2 separate regions of the Homo sapiens genome follow, and region 1 is linked to region 2. The links come from fine-mapping of genetic effects on gene expression. A gene starts in region 2. The other region holds a variant in brackets. All regions are shown on one strand. Distances are from middle to middle. Region 1 overlaps SYCP1 (synaptonemal complex protein 1). Region 2 holds the start of LINC01765 (long intergenic non-protein coding RNA 1765).

Region 1 (2,842 bases), 150 kb after region 2:
TCCTGACCTCATGATCCGCCCGCCTCGGCCTCCCAAAGTGCTGGGATTACAGACATGAGCCACAAAAGTGTTCTTTTCTTAAAAGTACACTTATATTTACGTGTGTTTTGCATTTACATTAGGAAATATTCTAAATGTTTCTAGAAAAAAGCTTCTGGGGGAAAATTATTTTCTCATCCCGTTATTAAAATTTATCAAATTATTTTATAATATGACATAATTCTAAAAATGCAAAGTTGCCCCTAAACCTTGTAATCATTTTATCTATAATGCCAAAAAACCTACCTTCTCTTCTCTTTCTATTTCAAGTTGCTTCTTAACAGACAAAAGTTCAGCTTTGAGATTGGATAGTTCAATCTCCTAAAGAAAAAGAAACATGAAGTTTAGAAGAGCTTCCATGTATTTCTCAAGACAATGAAAATATAAACTAGTGCTCTGAGTAAATTTAATATTGTAGAGAAATAAATTCACTCATAAAATGTAGATACTTTTAAAGTCAACTGATATAAAGGCTGCTAGCTTAACATAGCTAAAAACCTCATTTAAACAAGTTTTTGGGCTGGGTGCAGTGGCTCATGCCTGTAATCCCAGCACTTCCCTGGGAGGCAGAGGCAGGCATATCACTCGAGGTCAGGAGTTTGAGGAAAGCCTGGCCAACATGGTGAAACCCCGTCTCTACTAAAAATATTAATACAAAAATTAGCCGGGTGTGGTGATGCACACCTGTAGTCCCAGCTACTCAGGAGGCTGAGGCCAGAGAACTGCTTGAACCCGGGAGGTGGAGGTTGCAGTGAGCCAAGATCATGCCAGTGCACTCCAGCCTGGGGGACACAGAAAGACTCCAACTCAAAAAACAAAAACAAAACAAAACAAAACAAAATCAAGTTTTTTGTAGTTTTCTTTAAAGAAAACTTCAACACAAAGTATATCTCTCCTCGTTCTCTCCCAGTTTATCCCACCCTCCTCTCCCAATTTCAATCAGAGGTCCAAACTTATTTGTTTACTGGAGTTTATAAAATTTCACTTGAAAAAATAGTTTGTTCCACTATTTCAAAAACTAAATTAGAAAAAAACATGTAACTAGAAGATCTATAAGATCCCTTTCAGAGTTAAGACTCTGATTCTATAGCTCAAAAATTAGTTTTACTTAATATTATTCTTTACCACCAGTCACTGCTGACATTATGAAAACTGGCCGTTACTGCAATTTTTTCTGTATCTCACCAAAGATGCTCTCAGTGATGACTGTTCTTGTTCTTTGCTCTTATAAAGTCCTAATTCTGAGTCTCTTTCTTCAATGATCTTATCATATTGGTGCTATATTAAACAAAGAAGACATTTTAGATATATTAAAACTGAATAGATTATAAGATTGGTATCCTAACATATTTTAATATTTAATTTA[G/A]TATTTAATTAATTATTTAGTATTTAATTTTGCAGAAACTTATGTTTATAAATTCAGTAATATATATGGGTATATATTTTTAATGTTTCAATTATATTTTTTCATTCAAACAACCTCAATAGTGAAACACACAACAGTCTTGGAAATAACCAAAGAGCAAAAGATAATTCTTTTATCTTTGGAAACATTGAATTTTAACATTTAAAAATTTGCCAGAAACACCAGGGCTTCTACAAAACTGACTGATTTCAAATCTGGGACAGGAAATACAAGCCTTAAACTAGCATTAGGAGATATACCTAATGTAAATGATGAGTTAATGGGTGCAGCACACCAACATGGCACATGTATACATATGTGACAAACCTGCATGTTGTGCACATGTACCCTAGAACTTAAAGTATAATAAAAAAATTATTACATCAAAAAAAGAAGCCTTAAACATTTTGTCATAACTCAAAGAAAGTTATCAGAGAAAATTACAGTTAAGTCAAAAGGACTTGCCACACAGCTTAAAGAGGCTCCTGCTAGCCAAAGGTGGGAAAATGTGAGTTATCAATAAGGACAGATGCTGCACTGGATTGAAACATACCAAATGTGTTCAAATCTATGAGTTCACAATGTTATTTAAATTATTTTTTAAATCCTCACCACTTCCCTCATAATAATCTCGTATTCCAGCAGCTTTTTTTTTTAATTGAATAGGTAGGTATACCCTACCTCTTCTCCAAATCTTAAGGGGAATGAGGCTTAATTCCTTAACAAATGGATACTCTAAAACAACAATTAAAAATATAAGACAAAAACACATCAAACACTAAGTATTTCATCTATTTATTCCTTTGATAAAAATTGATTTAGCCTATTATATGTTAGATATCAATGAGATACTTATCCTGGTTATGTACTTAAAAATATATAAGGTAGAAAGTGCTATAAGAGACTATTAGCAGAATCCAGAAAAAGAGTGATTACTTCCATTCATCACAGATAACAAAGAGAGATTTCCTCAAGGATGTGACACACAGGCTCAACTTTGTATGGTTAAGATCTGAACTTGAAGAAATGGGCATCAAGGGTATTCTAGCTATAGACAGTCACTGTTGCATAGACAATAATCTTCTCTGACAAATAAGAATACTATCTTGATTTCACCATTATTTAACAGAAATATGGCTCCAATTAATAATTTTCATTATATAAGAAGAAAAAAATTACCTTATGTTTTTCCATAAGTGCTACCATTTCAGCTATTTTATGTTGACATCGCTTATCAATTTCTTTCTGTAATTTTACTGCTTCATCAGCTATTACTTTTGCTTTCTCAACCTATCAAATAAGCAAAAAAAAAAAGTTTCTTAAAATAAATGCACAAAAAACAAACAAGTGTAAAAAGTATATGTTCTACTTAAATAAAAGCAAACCTCAAACACCAGG
Region 2 (2,922 bases):
CATGAGATGTTTTGATACAGGCATGCAATGTGAAATAAGCACATCATGGAGAAGGGGGTGTCCATCCCCTCAAGCATTTGTTCTTTGAGTTAGAAACGATCCAGTTACACTCTTTATTTTAAAATGTACAATTAAGTTATTATTGACTATAGTCACCCTATTGTACTATCAAATAGTAGGTCTTCTTCATTCTTTCTATATTTTTTTGTACTTATTAACTATTCCTACCTTCCCCTCCAACTCCCCACTCCCTTTCCCAGCCTCTGGTAACTATCCTCCTACTCTATAGGTCCATGAGTTCAATTGTTTTCATTTTTAGATCCCACAAATAAGTGAGATATTACTATTTTGTTGACTATTATTTTGCTGAAGATTTTTGCATCTATGTTCATAAGTGAAATTGACCTATAATTTTCCTTTTCATTACTGTCCTGTCTTTTTCAGGTTTAGGTTTCGAGATCTTGCTACAAGTCTCATAATTTTAGTATTTTTTAAATGCTCCCTCTTTTTCTACTCTCTGGTAGAGTTTGCATAAGATTGGAATTACTTCATACCTAAACGTTTGGCAGAACACACCACTGAAGGACAATCTGGGCTGGACTTTTTTGTTTTTGTGAAAAGATCATATACAATTTTTTAATGCTTACAAGGCTATTCAAACTTCTAATTTTCATTGAGTGCATTCTGATGTTACTTTTCAAAGGAATCAGTCCATTTTACCTACCTTTCAAATTTATTTGCAGTTGTTTATATTATCCTATTATTATCTAAATCTCTGCAGATCTGGAGTTATTAATCTTTTTTTTTTCCTGACATTGGTTATTTGTGCAATCTCTCTTTTTCTTGATTATTTTCAACAGAAGTTACTGATATATTTAGGTATAAATTTACCATCTCATTGTATGTTTTCAATTTAGTCTACCTGTTTTACATTTCTTTTGTTCTCTGTGATGGTTAATTTTACATGTCAACTTGACTAGGCCAGGGGGGCCCCAAATATTTGGTCAAACATTATTCTGGGTATGCCTGTGAGGGTGTAAATTGGTAGACCAAGTAAAATAGATTACCATTCTTAAAGGGCAGCTCTCATCTGCTCAGCTGAAGGCCTGAATAGGACAAAAGGGTTGACCCTTTTGCAAGTAAAAAGGAACTCCTTCCTGAGTGCTTGACCTGGGACATAGATCTTTTCCTGTTTTTGGACTTGAACTGAAACATCAGCTCTCCTTGGGTCTGGAGTCTGACAGCATTCAGACTAGAACCCCACTATTAGCTCTCCTGGGTCTCCAGCTTGCTGACTGCAGACCTCAGGACTGTCAGCCTCCATAATCACATGAGCCAACTCCTTATAATAAATCTCTTATATGAATATATAATGTCTGACTAATATAGACAATCTTGCACCTTGCTTTAGAATGTAAAGGTACTTAAGTACCTACAATTTTGCTCTCAGCCTTTGGGGCCTCTGTTAAACCTTAAAGTCAACAAGAGAAGTCACATTAAAATTCTGCCAGACTATTACTCAGTAATTTTTTAAACTCTTTCCTAATTTGGATGATTCAAATGGGGATCATCTGTGAGGCACAATAAATATTCAGACTTAGACCTCAGACCTGGATGAGTTATGTTCCTCTCCTTCCCCCAACTGGCTGCACGAGTGAAAACAAAAATGGGCTAGTTGTTCCCATAGGGTCCTATGAAAACAAACAGTTACCTTTTGAGTTTGCTCTCTTCTCTTGTTTCAAAGTCCCCTCTCTTTCTTCACTCATGTCCCCACAAGCAGGTATAAACTTTCTCTCACTAGCAAATAACAGAAACTGAAAAATGATCAAAGGAAGCTACTGCTGCCTGCATGCTGCTGGGAAAACATCGTAAAAGGAGCACCCAGCAACCTGTGACCATGGAGATGGTTTGTAATCAGCAAGCCAGGGCCCTCGCTTTCCTTCCTTCTCTGGGCATCCAATAGACGGTTGGTTTAGAAACTCTGAGCCCACAGACTATTTTCCAACAACAGCTGCATAGCAACAGGGTTCCTATGCTGTAAACCCAGCAGTCAAAAACTGCTCGTGTTTGCTTATCAAAACCAAAGTTACGATAGCAGGCACACCGGGCTTCCTTTTCTAGCAGTAGGGCAGATTTGATATCCTGAACTACCTTCTCGACTGAAACTAAGACCCTGGATAAAATATGTAAGAATGTAAAAATAAAACCACATCGTTGAGCTAGCACAAAAGGAAGAGAATCTACAAAGGCCAAAATGAAGTGAAAGCAAGAACTCGAAGTAAGCAGGCACCAAAGCCACCTTTTGCCCTGGGTTTCGGTTTCGACAGCTGCAACCGCTTGGGGTTTGTGAAGTAAAGCCTAAAATGCCATTAATATAGACAGTGTATTAGGAGACCTCACCCAAACCTGGTACCTCCTCCCAAAGGATACACCCTCAAGGGAAGAGTAGACAAGAAATAAACCCATCATGCAAAAGACGACAAAGAAATGTATACGTTTTGGACTTGGTGTTGGAGTGGGGAAAATCTCCCCTGAGACCTTGTCACCACAAGCCAGCCTTCAAATGGATTTGTTGTCTGAATTAACACTATGGTACTGCCTTGAGATGATTTGCAGAAGGCAAAGAAAATCCTCTCTGGAGGAATAAAATCTCAACTAAGGACTCAAAGAATTCCCACAAATTTCCAAGGAAAGTAAGCAGTTTACAGCTTTAAAAAAATCACATAATACACAAGGAACAAGACACTAAAATCAATACGTAGAAAAGTCCACAGGCAGCAAAGTCTGATCACAGAGAGTTCAGATACTAGGGTTATGAGACATATAATACAAAATGGTACTACAACTCCACCCTTGCTTATTTTCCTTGTTTCCAAATGCAAGCCCCCATCAGTGTCTGGTTCTCAGTCCCATTCTATTTCT

The links. PIP is the estimated chance that this variant, and not a neighbour inherited with it, causes the effect.
Region 1: its variant is the best candidate, but not a certain one, in a credible set for the expression of LINC01765 in whole blood (INTERVAL, PIP 0.79).

The regions. Positions count from the first base shown.
Region 1 is chr1:114,944,764-114,947,605 of GRCh38, reverse strand. It overlaps SYCP1 (synaptonemal complex protein 1), which reads right to left. Exons shown (of 32, transcript NM_003176.4): 25 at 2,624-2,734; 26 at 1,225-1,317; 27 at 286-360. Among named protein-coding and RNA genes, the nearest start is that of TSHB, 84 kb to the left of the region's middle. The variant G/A (reference allele first, on the strand shown) is at 1,406.
Region 2 is chr1:115,098,541-115,101,462 of GRCh38, reverse strand. It overlaps LINC01765 (long intergenic non-protein coding RNA 1765), which reads right to left and starts at 1,816. Exons shown (of 2, transcript XR_947722.3): 1 at 1,712-1,816. RefSeq lists an enhancer at 1,706-1,765.